Regions from separate parts of the Homo sapiens genome. Here region 2 is linked to region 1. The links come from fine-mapping of genetic effects on gene expression. A gene starts in region 1. The other region holds a variant in brackets. All regions are shown on one strand. Distances are between the middles of the regions.

The links. PIP is the estimated chance that this variant, and not a neighbour inherited with it, causes the effect.
Region 2: its variant is the best candidate, but not a certain one, in a credible set for the expression of ATP6AP1 in whole blood (TOPMed, PIP 0.62).

What each region holds. Positions count from the first base shown.
Region 1 is chrX:154,426,563-154,430,945 of GRCh38, forward strand. It overlaps ATP6AP1 (ATPase H+ transporting accessory protein 1), which reads left to right and starts at 2,115. Exons shown (of 10, transcript NM_001183.6): 1 at 2,115-2,291; 2 at 2,486-2,612. The coding sequence starts at 2,131. ATP6AP1-DT (ATP6AP1 divergent transcript) reads right to left here and starts at 1,917. Exons shown (of 2, transcript NR_103768.1): 1 at 1,566-1,917. RefSeq lists an enhancer at 1,831-2,332 and a silencer at 1,908-2,017.
Region 2 is chrX:154,514,878-154,519,260 of GRCh38, forward strand. FAM3A (FAM3 metabolism regulating signaling molecule A) reads right to left here and starts at 1,355. Exons shown (of 9, transcript NM_021806.4): 1 at 883-1,355. The coding sequence starts at 895. LOC124905229 (a long non-coding RNA gene) reads left to right here and starts at 603. Exons shown (of 2, transcript XR_007068357.1): 1 at 603-838. RefSeq lists enhancers at 623-1,246, 1,247-1,869 and silencers at 1,220-1,629, 1,845-2,001. The variant T/G (reference allele first, on the strand shown) is at 2,115.

The sequences.
Region 1 (4,383 bases):
GCCAAAGTGCCCGGCCCTTTTTTTTTTTCTTTTTTTTGAGATGGAGTTTCGCTCTTGTTGCTCAGGCTGGAGTGCAATGGCACGATCTCGGCTCACTGCAACCTCCGCCTCCCAGGTTCAAGCAATTGTCCTGTCTCAGCCTCCTGAGTAGCTGGGACTACAGGTGCCCGCCACCACGCCCAGCTAATTTTTGTATTTTTAGTAGAGACGGGGTTTTGCCATGTTTGCTAGGCTGGTCTCAAACTCTTGACCTCAGGTTATCTGCCCGCCTCAGCCTCCCAGTGTTGGGATTACAGGCGTGAGCCACCACGCCCAGCCAGGATTTCAATGAACAAAATGCTTTTACCCTAAAGATGAAGTCCCCAGACAGAAGGTGCTCATTGGTGCTGTCAACATTTGGTGATTGGTTCAGTTTAGATATCACCTCCTGGTGGGAGCAGCTTCATCGGTGCCCCTCTCCTTACATCCCTCCCAGTCCCATGTCTCAACCTTTGGAATATTCATGACCCTGTATCATGACCTGCTGTCCTGCATGTCCTCTAGACCAAACTGTCAACTTCCGGGGCAGAGTCCAGGTGCCTGGCCCATAGCAGGTGCTTCAGGAAGCCTCCAGGGCCATCACTCCAGGGACCCCTAGCAATGCAGGGAAGAATAAAAGCAGCCACAGGTGGGTTTCTTCCCTAAGCATGGAAGCAGCTCAGCAACAGAGTCCTGGCGGAGGCAAGATTGCCTTCCGCATTCCAGAGGAAGTATTTGCCTTGAAACTATGTAACAAAAGTAACAGAAACATAATAGACATGCTTTCCTTTTTAAGTTTGCTGGATTCTCCTGGGATACAGTGAAGCTCCAGTGAAAACCTCTCTCCTCAGCTAGTTAAGGCCTGGAAATGGCCACTTGGGGGTTTCCCTAAGCACCCGAAACTCAGTGAGCCCCCAAGTGACCTCGTCTCCCAGTCCCCAACTCAGAGAGACCCAAAAGCTACAATCTTCTTTGACTGTATTGTCAGACCCACTTCCTCTCTCCAGCTCAACTGCCACTATCCTAGTCCTAGTCTGAATCACATGTGACAATCATGACTACAATCTTTTTTTTTTTTTTTTTTTGAGATGGACTCTCACTCTGTCGCCCAGGATGGAGTGCAGTGGCGCGATCTCGGCCCACTGCAACCTCCGCCTCGCGGGTTCAAGTGATTCTCCTGCCTCAGCCTCCCGTGTAACTGGGACTACAGGTGTGCACCACCATGCCCAGCTAATTTTTGTATTTTCAGTAGAGATGGGGTTTCACCATGTTGTGCAGGATGGTCTCGATCTCTTGACCTCATGATTCGCCCGCCTCGGGCTCCCAAAGTGCTGGGATTACAGGCGTGAGCCACAGCGCCCGGCCCGTTAGGGTGTCTTTGATGCCACGCTTCGCTCTGGGTTTTCTCCTTCCTCTTTGATTGCTCCTTGTCCGATCTCTTTTCTGGACCCTTCTCCTCCTGCCCAATGTAAGTGCTGGGTGTTCCCCTAGATGCTATCCTGAGCCCGCTTCACTCCTCGTTCTAAGGGATTACAGTCTCCTCTCACCTGTATCAGGGAGGGTCCATCTGCAGGAAAAAGACACCACTTTTGCAATTTTAAGGAAAAGGATTAAAACAGGGATTGGCCGGGTGCGGCGATGCGCGCCTGTAGTCCCACTTTTCCGGAGGCTGAGGCGGGAGGATCGCTTGAGCCCGGGGACTCGAGACCAGCCTGGCCAACATAGCTAGACCCCGTCTCTAAAGAAAAAAAAAAGACAAAAGAAGAGAACAACAACAAAAAAACCAAAATAAAAATAAAAATAAAAACGGACGGGCGAACGCGTCGGGTGGGCGTAGGGTTCCGCGAAGCCTCCCTGTCCCTCTTGTCTCGTCCTAGTCGGTCTAGCTGGGCCCCATCCCCTTTCCCACTCGGAGCGTGAGCGCCTGGAGACACGTACAGCCAACCAGTGAGAAGGAGTGGCCGCGAGTGGCATGCACTTGGTCCAATTACCTGCGGCCCTGCCGGTCGGCCCGCGCTGGGGCCAATGGAGGTGCGAGGCGGGGCTCGGGCGGGGGCAACGGTCACCTGATCTGCGGCTGTCGAGGCCGCTGAGGCAGTGGAGGCTGAGGCTATGATGGCGGCCATGGCGACGGCTCGAGTGCGGATGGGGCCGCGGTGCGCCCAGGCGCTCTGGCGCATGCCGTGGCTGCCGGTGTTTTTGTCGTTGGCGGCGGCGGCGGCGGCGGCAGCGGCGGAGCAGCAGGTCCCGCTGGTGCTGTGGTCGAGTGACCGGTGAGCGGGCCGGGGTGGGATGCGCTGTGGCGGCTGAGGCGCCCTCGCCCGACTCCGGCGCTGTCCTAGGCGAGGGGTGGTGAGGCCCGGAGGTGGACTGTTCCTTGCTCGGGGGCTCGCAGCGAATCTGCCGGCGACAGAGCTCCAGTCCACATGCGCCCCCGTCTGACAGCACCTCTTCTGTGCCCTGCCAGGGACTTGTGGGCTCCTGCGGCCGACACTCATGAAGGCCACATCACCAGCGACTTGCAGCTCTCTACCTACTTAGATCCCGCCCTGGAGCTGGGTCCCAGGAATGTGCTGCTGTTCCTGCAGGACAAGGTGCGCCCGCCCCAGCCCACTCTCCCCCGGTCATCGGGAGGCAGCCAGGCCCCCTCCCCCCATGACACTGACGCCCATTCCCCAAGGGAAGCTTCAGTGACCTTGTCCCAACTGTAGGGAGGTGTGGGTCGTCTCATGGGAAGGCCTGTAGTAAACGCTTCAGTGGGCATGGCGACAGCCTCGGAAATGGCACCAACTTGATTGGAGGAAGCGACGGACCAGAGGCCAGGTACCTACTGAGTACCAAGCACTTTGGATATCTGACTTAGTCCAATATGGTGGGTGGGGATTATCGTCCCTGTTTGTTTATAGATGAGAAGACTGAGGCTGGAGGTTAAGTGACTTGTCCAAGCTCATACAGCTAATGGGTGGCAGAGTTGTAATTCTAGCTGTGATGATCATAATAATGATAATTGGAAAATGCTCACCTGTTTAGTGCTTTGTAGGCACTTGCTACACTGATGTCATTATCTTGGTTTCACTGCCAAGGAAAGTAAGGTTTGTCGAGATACAATGTTTCACTACAGTTGATAGATACCACTTTGGTTCCAGCCTGAGTCTGCCAATCCTCCCTCCCAATTGGAGCTCATAACCCGCATGCTGTTTTCCTTCCCATCCAGGATCTTTGCCCCAAAAGCAGGCGTGGAGACCATGAGATGACTCTAAGATAGCAAGTCTCTGCTAGGCCCTCCCTTGTTGGTGGCCTGTATGGCTCATTGCCCTTGTAGTCTCCCTTGGTTGCTGTGTGGGCAGATGGTGGTGGCCTGAAGTCTTTTCAGGAGGTGGTAAATAATATAGTCAAATAGGAACTGAGTCCTAGTTCTACCATGTAACCAGCCATTGGAGGCATGAAATAATCTTTGTGAATGACAGTTTCTACATCTGTAAAATGAAGACACCACCTATATCAGAGGGCTGTGAGTGGGAAATCTTTTTTTTTTTTTTTTTTGAGACGGAGTCTCGCTCTGTTGCCCAGGCTGGAATGCAGTGGTGCAATGTCAGCTCAGCTCACTGCACCCTCCGCCTCCCGGGTTCAAGCAGTTCTCTGCCTCAGCCTCCCGAGTAGCTAGGATTACAGGGCGCCCGCCACTACACCCAGCTAATTTTTGTATTTTTTTGTATTTTTAGTAGAGATGGGGTTTCACCATGTTGGCCAGGCTGGTCTTGAACTCCTGACCTCGTGATCCACCCACCTCAGCCTCCCAAACTGCTGGGATTACAGGCGTGAGCCACCGCGCCCGGCCTGTGAGGGGGAATTCTTATAATCCACATAAAACATCTAGCCAGGATCCCCCAGTCTTAGGGCATTCACCCATTCATTCATTTGCCCAATATGGAAAGCCTACTATGTGCCAGGTATTGTGAAGTGTTGGGGATATGGCAGTGAGCAGAAGAACCCAAGCCCCCACCCTCAGGAAGCTGACATTCTTGTGAGGGTGGCCAGTAAATACTAAGTCGGTATAGGATATGATGTCAGTGTTACGGCCTTTAGGGAAGGAAGCAGGCTAAGGGGACAGAGTGACTGGGATGCTATTTTAGATAAGGGTGGTCAGGCCAGGCCTCATTGAGGAGGTGATATATGAGCAGCGATCTTAATGGAGGGAGGGAGCCGTTTGGGGAAGGACATTCCTGGAACAGCAAATGCGAGGGTCCTGGGCGAGGTGTGCTCTTGGCCAGCTCAAGGAAGAGCTGGTGTGGCTGGAGCACAGTGAGTGAGAGAAAGGGGTAGGAGATGTAGGAGATGGTTTGCAGGTGGCTAGGCGATGAAGTA
Region 2 (4,383 bases), 88 kb after region 1:
TCTGTCGCCCAGGCTGGAGTTATGCGGTGGCGCAATCTCGGCTCACTGCAACCTCAGCCTCCCGGGTAGCTGGGATTACAGGCACCCGCCACCACGCCAGGCTCATTTTTTTGTATTTTTTTAGTAGAGATGAGGATTCACCATGTTGGCCAGGCTGGTCTCGAACTCCTGACTTCAAGTGATCCTCCCACCTCGGCCTCCCAAAGTGCTAGGATTACAGGCGTGAGCCACCGCGCCCGGCCTGTAGTGTGTTTTTAGATGATGTCATCTACTCCTAGCTCTTTAATTAAGCACCATGTGTCAATGACTTTCTATTTTCTAGTTCCAGCCGTGGCCTCTCTTGAAACCACTCCCTGCCAGCTGGTTCCTCAGTGGCCAGCTCCACCTGGATATGTCCACAAAGTTACCACCTTAGCAAGTCTGAAGTCCAATTCCCGAGTTGTTTCTACTCTCCACCCAGCCCCAACCTATCCCTCCCCAAGGATCTTCATCTTACTTGTCCAGGTGACAGTAGGGCTGTCATCGGGTTCATGTCGAAGCCCACAGCCACTTTTGTCACTTCCCCTCTAAGACCACGCCTCTCCACCTGGACTGCCCACCTCCTCTCTCTCACCACTCATTTTCCAAAAAGCAGCTGGTCTGCTACCTGCGTTGGGAGATACTGACTATACTAATCCTCATGTCATAGCTCGGGGAGCTGACGTCCTCAGAGGTGAAAGGATTTGGTTAAGGTCAAGGAACGAGTGTTTGTGCAGAGTCCTCCATTTCCAAAACCAAACCCAGTGGTTCACCCGGGCCTCTCCAGACACAGATGTCGCGACGCTGGGCCTCCAGCCAGGTGCCCTTTTCAACTCCCTCCCGTTCGCTGTGGAAGCCACCCACCTGCCAACCTCATGTCCACTTCTCCTGCTGGGTTGGGACCGCCGGCAAGTGCACTGTTTGGGGGCAAAGCGGAAGGACAGGTTTGGGTGGGGGTCAGGGGCAAGCCTGTGCGGGACCCCTGCTGGGGGCGGGCGCGATCGGTGCTACGACCTGTTTGTCCAGCCGCCCGGCCAGGCAGGGCTCCTCGGAAACGCGCGGGGAAACCCTGCCTGGCCAGGAGGGGCCTCAGGAACCCGTTGGCTCACGATCTTGCCCACAGGAGCCTCCGGGGCTGGGACGAAGATGTGGTTCTCCTGGGCTCGGGCCGTTCCTCCGGGCCTGGGGGCTGGCGATGCGGGCCGGGCCGGAGATTTCTCTGGCCGTGGGGAGACGTGGGCTCGGTCAGGGAGGTTCCCTGTCAGGCCCGCCGACCCGCTCCGCCCCGGGAGAGGACGCAAGGCCGCTGCGCAGGGTGGCCAGGCAGGCCCGGCAATGGCGGCTAAGGGCGGGGCCACAGCCCGCCGGCCCCGCCCCCGGCAGCAGCTGCGCCGTCTGGCTCCACGCAGGCCCCGCCTCCAGACCCGCCTCTACCGCTCGCGCTGGCCGCCGCATGGGAGGGGCCTGAACCTGTCCCGCCCCGAACCTGTCCCGCCCCTGGATCCCTCGTCGGCCCCACCTCCGCAGTGCGTTCAGGCTGAACCCACCGGCCGCCGAGTGGGAGGGGCCCACGTCGGTCCCGCCCCGGAAGTCTCCCCTCGGCCCTTTCTCGGGTGGGAGAGCCCTGCCTACCCAGGCTTAGAGGGCTGGGGCTGCGCTTGCACCCTGAGGTCAGATTTGTGAGTCGTGGGAAGACGCAGATGGATCTGGGGCAGAATTAGAACCTGTTCCAAAGTTGATCCATGCGCTTTGTAAAGGCAAGGGAGGTACAGAGGCGCAGATAGGGAAGACCGCAGGATCCAGCGTGAGCCTCTGGCTGCCTTTCCTTAGGGTCTGTTTTCTGTCCAGAAGCGCGTTCCTGCTGTCTCTCGTTATCACTTTTATAATGGGACGGGGCGTCTCAAACTATTTCGACATCCTTGAAAACTCTTGCCTGCTCCGCCTGCCTGGTCTCTAACACCCTCCTCCTCAGAGCTGCTCAAGCTGTGTTGTTTACGCCACACCCCACCCTAAAAGCAGAGGAGAATACAACTTTCGGGGGCAGTGGAGGGGGGAGTTTAGCGCTATAACCCGAGGCTTTCACAGCAAACCAGAAT[T/G]TATTTTGAGGCCTCTCAGGTTCAGCTTTCAAGTCACGTGACTTTCGCGTCCTACACAACTCTTATTTTCACTTGAAAACAAGTGTGACGTCGTGAATTCCCTAACAATAGGAAAAAAGAAGGCTCCAGAAAGAGCGGTGCTTGGCTTTCCCAGCGGCTCCAAATGGTGCCCGGCACCCAGCTGGCTGTATGGACCTGGGGTGGTCTCCGGCCGCAGGCAGACGCGGCCCTTCGGCCTTTCTCCAGTCACCCCAATTCTCCCTGACTGCCTGGCTATCTCCCCTCCGCGCCTGCCCGCACGCTGCCCCCAACACTGCCCGGGCTCCCTCTGCCCATGAGAACACGGGTCAAGCTCCCGTCCCTTCTGCCCTGCCGGCTGCCCCAAGTGCGCCCTGACCACCTACTGCGCTGGCATGGCCGGGGCCACCCTGACAGCTGATCCATCATCTGTCTGGAGAGCAGCAGCAGGGCCCAATGAGAACCACGGAAACCTCCCTGCCCTTTGACCCAACTTACGGGAATCTCCTACCCTTAGGGAAACAATGCAAAATATAGAGAAAGTTTATAGAGCCGGGCATGGGAGAGCCCTGGTTAGAATCCAGCAGCTTCTATACTGGAGTACTCAACAGGGTCAAGGTCCCTTTCAGCTGCCTGCTGCTGGGGCCAGGGCTTTGCATTTGCGTTTTGTCATGGAATTTGACAGCCTCTCAAGTAATTATGGTAACGAATCTTGGGCTCCATGCCCTCCTCAGGGGGGCCCAGTCGAAGAAGCTCCAGGTTACTCACACCCTTGAGCTGCCAGCCGGTGTTTTTCAAAGACAATATTTACATGTTGTTCAGAGCAGGCATTTATGAAAGTGTTGCTTTAATGAGTCCCCCTGAGCATTCCGAGACAACTCTCCCTTCCTTGGGGACACCACGTGGGTGATGGGCCAGAGGCCTGGGATTCAGTTCCACGTCTTCCGTGCTTCCTGGGGCAGCCTTGCAAAAGTCCCTTATTTTCTCTGGGATGGTTTGGATTCCTGTGGGGGTCTGGCCAGCACGGTGACTAGAGCACATGGTCTGTCACCATCCAGGCCAACGTCCTGGGGTACACTCACAGTCATCTGTTCTTCCAGGTCAGCCCTCATAGATCAGGGCAGCTTCAGCAGTTCTCAAATAGCAGATGTTACAAAATGGGGGTGGGCAATCCTGCAGCAGACGTCTCTGCACTTTCTGTTAGAAGGACACCCCAGGTATTTTTGAGCACTGTTCTGAAGACGGAAAAATCCAGAGTATACATACACTTAAAGCTGGGAGGGGCACCTGCCGGGGAGAATGCATAAGGGATAGAAACAAAAATAGAGGGCCGAAGCCTCTGCCAGGCAGAAGACACTGAGTTCTCAGCAAAGAGAACACCTTTCAGTGCTGTGGTCAAAGGGATGTCAAGCCTCCTGAGGCCCGGAAAGAGCAGGAAACTGAGGGCAGAATTGGAAAAAATCAAGTTACAGACACACACCACGGGATAACCTCTATACAGAGAGGAGCACACCCAAAATAATACTATATATTTATAGATGTACTTTTGTATTGGGGTAAGACATATATAACATAACATTTGCCATCCAAATCATTTTAAGTATACGATCCTGTGGCATCAGTTACATTCACAATGTTGTACAACCATCACTACTATCTTTTTGTGTGTGTGTATATTACTTTTTTTTTTTTTTCCCCCGAGACAGAGTCTTGCTCTGTCTCCAGGCTGGAGTGCAGTGGCTCAATCTTGGCTCATTGCAACCTCTGCCTACCAGGTTCAAGCAATTCTCCTGCCTCAGTCTCCTAAGTAGCTGGGATTACAGGTGCCTGCCATCATACCCAGCTAATTTTTATATTTTTAGTAGAGACGGGGTTTCAACATGCTGGCCAGGCTCGTTTCAAACTCCTGAGCTCGTGTTCTGCCGGCCTTGGCCTCCCAAAGTGCTGGGATTACAGGCGTGAGCTACTGTGCCCGGCCATGTATTACTTTTATGGGCTCATATATATGTCCATAGAAATATAGAGTTCTTTTAAAAATTCTATCAATAGATATTTCTTTTTCTCTTTTCTTTTCTTTTTTTTTTTTTTTTTGAGTCAGAATCTCACTCTGTTGCCCAGGCTGGAGTGCAGTTGCGTGATCTCGGCTCACTGCAACTCCTGCTTCCCGGGTTCAAGTGATTCTCCTGCATCAGCCTCCCGAGAAGCTGGAACTACAGGCGTCTGTCACCATACCCGGCTAATTTTTTTGTAT